2 separate regions of the Homo sapiens genome follow, and region 1 is linked to region 2. The links come from fine-mapping of genetic effects on gene expression. A gene starts in region 2. The other region holds a variant in brackets. All regions are shown on one strand. Distances are between the middles of the regions.

What was found.
Region 1: its variant is fine-mapped to the expression of CRADD in whole blood (INTERVAL, PIP 0.90).

Annotation. Positions count from the first base shown.
Region 1 is chr12:93,826,904-93,829,820 of GRCh38, forward strand. All of the region lies in intron 2 of CRADD (CARD and death domain containing adaptor protein), which reads left to right. Among named protein-coding and RNA genes, the nearest start is that of CRADD-AS1, 91 kb to the left of the region's middle. The variant T/C (reference allele first, on the strand shown) is at 1,324.
Region 2 is chr12:93,676,050-93,678,966 of GRCh38, forward strand. It overlaps CRADD (CARD and death domain containing adaptor protein), which reads left to right and starts at 1,326. Exons shown (of 3, transcript NM_003805.5): 1 at 1,326-1,423; 2 at 2,720-2,917. The coding sequence starts at 2,726. RefSeq lists enhancers at 567-1,382, 1,171-1,410, 1,383-2,197.

The DNA.
Region 1 (2,917 bases), 150 kb after region 2:
TGACTCAACCTAATAATTAGATGAAAACTATCCACAGTGATCAAGACTGTGATGGCCATCCTGCAGTATTCTGGGAGAGTCTAGGGAACAGGACCTAACCCAGTGAAGTGGGGCCAGGGACAAGAAGGGGACAAAATAAACCCAAAAAAACCCCCAGCTTTATTGAGGTATAATTGACATACAGTAAACTGCACAAGTTCTTAGTATGTAATTTGATGTTTCCACACACTTATACACCCATGAAACCATTGCCACAGTCAGAATGATGAACCTATCCAACACTCCTAAAAGTTTTCTCATGTCCCTCTATAATTCCTTCTTCCCATCACCCCCATCTCCAGGCAAACACGGATCTGCCTTCTGTCATTATGTGTTGGTTTCATTTCCTAGAATTTCACATAAATGGAGTTCTACAGCATTCTCTTTTGTCTGGCAACTTGCACTCCGCATAATTATTTTTAGATTTGTCCATGTTGAAGTGCATATTAATACTTTGTCCCTTTTTAATGTAGGACAGTATTTCATTTTGCAGATATGCCATAGTTTGTTTATGCATTCACTTGTCGACAGACATTTGTTTCGTCGGCTATTACAAATAAAGCTGCCGGGAACATTCATTTACAAGTCTTTGCATGGACATGGGCTTTCTTTTCTCTTTATTAAACACCTAGAAGTGAAATGGCTAGACTATATGGTAGATGTATGTTTAACGTGTTAAGTGACTACCAAATCATTTTCCAAAGTGTTTGTCCCATTTTATGATTCTATCAGCAGTGTATGAGAGTTCCGTTTCTTCCATATCTATGCCAACATTGTCTTCAGTCTTCTTTATTTTAACCAATTTTATTGTGGTAAGAACACTTAACATGAGATCTACACAATACAGTATTGTTAAGTATAGGTACAATGTTACAGATCCCTAGAAATTACTCATCTTGCATAAATGAAAGCATACCTGTTGAACAGCAACTCCTCATTTCCCCCTTCCCCCAGTAGTGGTTCCCTCCTGGCAACCACTATTCTCCGTTTCTATGAGTTTGACTATATTAGATACCTCAAATAAGTGGAATCATGTAGTATTTGTCTTTCTGTGACTGGCAAGCATTCTAATTTGAGTAGAGTGGTATTGCATTGTGATTTTAATTTACATTTCTCTAGTGAGTGATGTTGAGTGTCTTTTTAAGTATTTATTTGCCATCCATGTATCTTCTTAGCTGAAGTGTCTGTCCAAATCTTTGCCCATTTAAAAAATTGGGTTATTTTTGTTAAGCTTTGAGAATTATTTGTATATATATATGTATACAAGTCCTTTACAAGATATGA[T/C]TTGCAAATATTTTTTCCTAGTCAGTGGTTTGTCTTTTAATTTTCTAAACAGTGTCTTTCAAATAGCAGAAGTTTTAAATTTTGATGACATCCAGCTTATCAATTTATTCTTTTATGGATCATGCTTTTAGTATGGTGCCATTTTAAAGAAGTCTTTGCCTAAGCTAAGCAAATAATTCATCTATGTTTTCTTCCAGACGTTCCATAGTTTTAGGTTTTCCATTTGGGTCTATGATCCATGTTGAATTAATTTTTGTGTATGATATGGGGTATGCCTTAAATTCTTGTGTATGTCTGCATGTGTGTATGCACATGTGTGCTTGTGCGTATGGAGAGTCAGTTGTTTTAGCATCACTTGTTGAAGAAACTATCCTTTCTCCATTGAACTGCCTTTGCACCTTTGTCAAAAGGTTTCCACATGGGTGTAAATCTATTTCTGAACTTTCTCCTGTTTTATTGATCTATTTGTCTACCTTTTCACTAATACCCACTGTCAATTTCTATAGCTTTAGGATGTCTTAAAATCAGGGAGTGTAATTATTCCAGCTGCATTCTTTTTCAAAATTATTTTGGCTCTTCTAAGGTCTTCACATTTCTTTATAAATTTTAGAATCAGCTTGTCAATTTCTATTTTTAAAAATATGTTTGGATTTTGATTGGAAGTCATTTTGATCGGGAGTGATTGAGCTTTCCAGGGGGATGTGTTCATGGGAGGAAACACATTTTTATATGTGAACAACTGGCATTTTAAGACCCATACAGCATTTAAAAAATTTTCCACAGCCTTGCTCCGAAGTTTATTGAAAACCCATCTGTGAAAAATAGTGTTATTTGATGCCAAAGGATACAAGGAAAAATAAAATGTTCTAATTCTGGTCCTTATTTCCTATGATTTCACCTTTTTTTTTTTTTTCAATGTCATTCCAGAGAGAGGAAAGACAGTTATCTCAGGCAGTCTTTTACCCCTGGGAAAAGACCACAGACACATGGGAGGGTTTGTGCTGCCTTGAGTGAAAAGAGTCTGTTTTGTTATGCTCTCCTTCCCCCAGCTGGCTGGAGGCTCATCCACCAAGCTTTAGACTATTATGCTGTGTAGGATTTTCTACCATTATCTGGTACAGGAGGCAGAAATCAAACCCCTATAAGGCTTGCAAGTTCCTGGACCCGGGAGATCAGCTCAGTGACTGGGCTTTCTCATGCGTGGTAGGAGAGTGGATGCTGGGGGTAGCCAGGATGAGGATGGCTCTGGTGAGCTGACAAGCAAAGCTACAAATCTGGAATTTTGTGAAACCTCTCAATTTTTAAATGCTCTTTCTGTAGTTTTTTGAACTGGACAGGCCAAATGAAACACATCTACGGGCCAAATTCAGTCCATTGCTACCACTGTGCAGCCTCTGATGGATGGGCTCTTTTATTTGCTTTTAGGGTCAGCTCTTTCATCAGCTCCCTAAAGTTTTGGTTTTTTGTTGTTGTTGTTGTTGTTTGAGATGGAGCCTCGCTGTGTCACCCAGGCTGGAGTGCAATGGCATGATCTTGGCTCACTGCAATGTCTGCCTCCCAGGTTCAAGCAATTCTCATGCCTCAGGCTCCTGAG
Region 2 (2,917 bases):
ATTGAATACAATTTTTAGAAGGTTTTGAGGAGGGAGGTTCAGAACTGTTCTCCATTGATTTGCTTAACAAAGATATTTTCATTTTCCACCAAAGGGTTTGGCTGTGAAAACCTTTGCAGAAATAATATTTTAGGAGTTTTTTCCCCCTGTACTGTCAACTGATTTTTAGTAAGCATATGACTTTCTGTATGTATCATCCAATTGATTTAAAAATGAATCAATGAATGTATTTATTGATCGCCTGCCTCGCTTCACAAAGGAATGTGAGGAAGGACACCCAATTTGGCATTGCTGTGTTTCTCTGTATTTGGGTCATGCATTTTTTCTTGCTTTCCACATTGAAAATGTGGTGGATGCAGTAGATTGGCTTTAAGTGTCAGGCCTTCCCTCATTTACTATACCTTTTTGTGTTTCACAAGCTGGAAAGCTACCAACTACATGCTCTAGACATCCTTGCTGCTAATATTCTGCATGTCAGATTGGTCTCACCAATGGCACGCAGCAAAGCAAGATTTGCAGGTGCTGTTTTCTTGCTGCTGGCAAATGCAGCCGTGGAGACCACCGTTTTTTGCAGCACTGTTCCAGTGTCCTGTTAATTGTTCTGTCGGTGTTGAGAGGAGGTTGGGGACCAGGCATGGCAACTTCCTGACGCCATCTTCCTGATTGTGGGCAGCAGCCACAATCAGCAATCTTATCTAGGTAGTCATCCATGGATGTTCAGCTCAGCCCTTCTCCAGCCTTTCCAATGATTTCGAATGTCCCCAATTCCCCCTAACGAATCCCTTTCTGACTAGGAGTAACTAGCTGAGTGCTGCAATGAAATCCTGACTGACAGATTTGTAAACTCTTTGCGGGCAGGAACCCTTGATATAAATAAATGACCTTGCATTTTAATGGAGGGAAGCAGAAGGATAAACAAATGAATAAGTGAAAAGTTTTAATAAGATGGTGATGCGTAAAAAATAAAGCTGGTTAATGGGGAGTGCAGGAAATGAGCGCAGCTGTCTTGCCGTTTTAATCAGATAGGTCAGAGAAGGCTTCTCTACTAGGGTGGCTTTTGACCTGCCTCTCTGTTAGGTCAATTGTGTGCGAGGCCCTGATGGAGTTACTGTGTTAAAATGCAATGATTCAATTACTCCATTACTTAGATACCCTTTAAGTGACACTACGGTTGTCCATCTCCCCGCTATTGAATTGTTTACCCACAGTAAGCATGGCGGGAAGAGCTTCGATCCGACCCTTGAACGCTCAATAAAAATGGCGACAGCACTTCCTGTACTTGCCCTCAACAAAGATGGTGTCAACACTTCCTGTTTAGGGTTTTCGCCATTAACAAAGATGGTGCTTATGGGGCAGGTTCCCTAACAGTCAGGATTCCGGTTGCAGTTTTTCTCCCCCGCCCCAAAGATACGTGGTTGCAGACGTAAGTAACAGGAATCCATCTTTCTTTGAAAGTCCTGCATTGTAGCGTCTGCGACCTGGGCCCTGCGGGGGCTTCCCCGCCCCGCTAACTTGCTCCGCATTTCCGATCCGGGCCAAGGCTGGGTGGCTGCGGCAGTGCCGGAGGCCCGCTCTCCCCTTGGTCCGCTCTTTAGTTCATTCCCAGCACTCCCTCTTTAGCGGGTCAAGTTGCCGCAGAAACCGCCCGTAGTCTTCCTGTTTGATACAAGGGTTTCAGCGGCCGAAGCAGAGCCTTTTTAAATAGTTCCCAATGGGCGCTCACGGCCAAACGTGAACACCTCCCCTCCTCACCTGTCACCTCCTGAACTTTACAGGGTTGCGAGGGGGAGTGTGGGATCGGGTGTCGCCTAGCCGTGGTCGTACTGCCCGGGTGTGTCTGAAGCCCCATCTGTCATCCCTGCCTGCCTTCCCGGTCACTTAACCTTCACTGCCTTACACACAACCAAGCCACAGCACACTGGTGCAGGGGTGGTGGAACTGCACCTTCAAATCGTGCCTGGCTACTGACCAGTGCTGGGGTGTGTGCTTTTTTTGAAAGAAAAAAATCCCATAAAATGTCCCATGCATGTGCGGCCACGACAGTGTTGTGCTGGAGATTCGGAATTCTTAGTGGGAAGGAATGGAGTCTGTGACTGTATATTGTGTAAAGTTTATTGTAGACTGGGCACAAACAACAATTTTCTTAAAGGTGATCGTGTAGAGGACTTTTAGCGAAAAGAGCCTTAAATTCTGAACCTGCTGATTTCTGTCCTGCACTCCTATTACTGATCAGGTTTTGCAAATACTTGTGATCAAAAAAAGGGGACCTGCGTCCACCTTGGCAGTTTCTGCCTTGGTGGTGGTGGTGCAGGTCTGATGAGGGCAATGTGAAAATAAAACCACCATTTCTTCTCCAGCGTGTTAAAATTAGTGCTGCTCTGTAATCTTCAGATAAAAATTGCTTGTTCAGAAGGGTCTCTGACCCACTTTTTTTTTTTCTTTTTCCAAATTTCTTTATTGAACGAGGAATTGAGCTGGGACCCCATTGTGTGAAAAGCAGAAACAGAAAAGATGATTCATCTTCATTGTTGTTCATTATGTTAGGAAACATTCAAAATTAACCTGGCTTGGCTTAATCAGTGAATTAAATACCATGACCTGGCAGTCTGCTATGGTTTAAAGATGTGCTTGACCTGAAGGAACTTACATTGCAGTGACACTGTCTTTAGGGCCACATCAACATGTCTGTAATTTGAGCTGTGATTTTGGCTCTTTCCAGGGAGAAATGGAGGCCAGAGACAAACAAGTACTCCGCTCACTTCGCCTGGAGCTGGGTGCAGAGGTATTGGTGGAGGGACTGGTTCTTCAGTACCTCTACCAGGAAGGAATCTTGACGGAAAACCATATTCAAGAAATCAATGCTCAAACCACAGGCCTCCGGAAAACAATGCTCCTGCTGGATATCCTACCTTCCAGG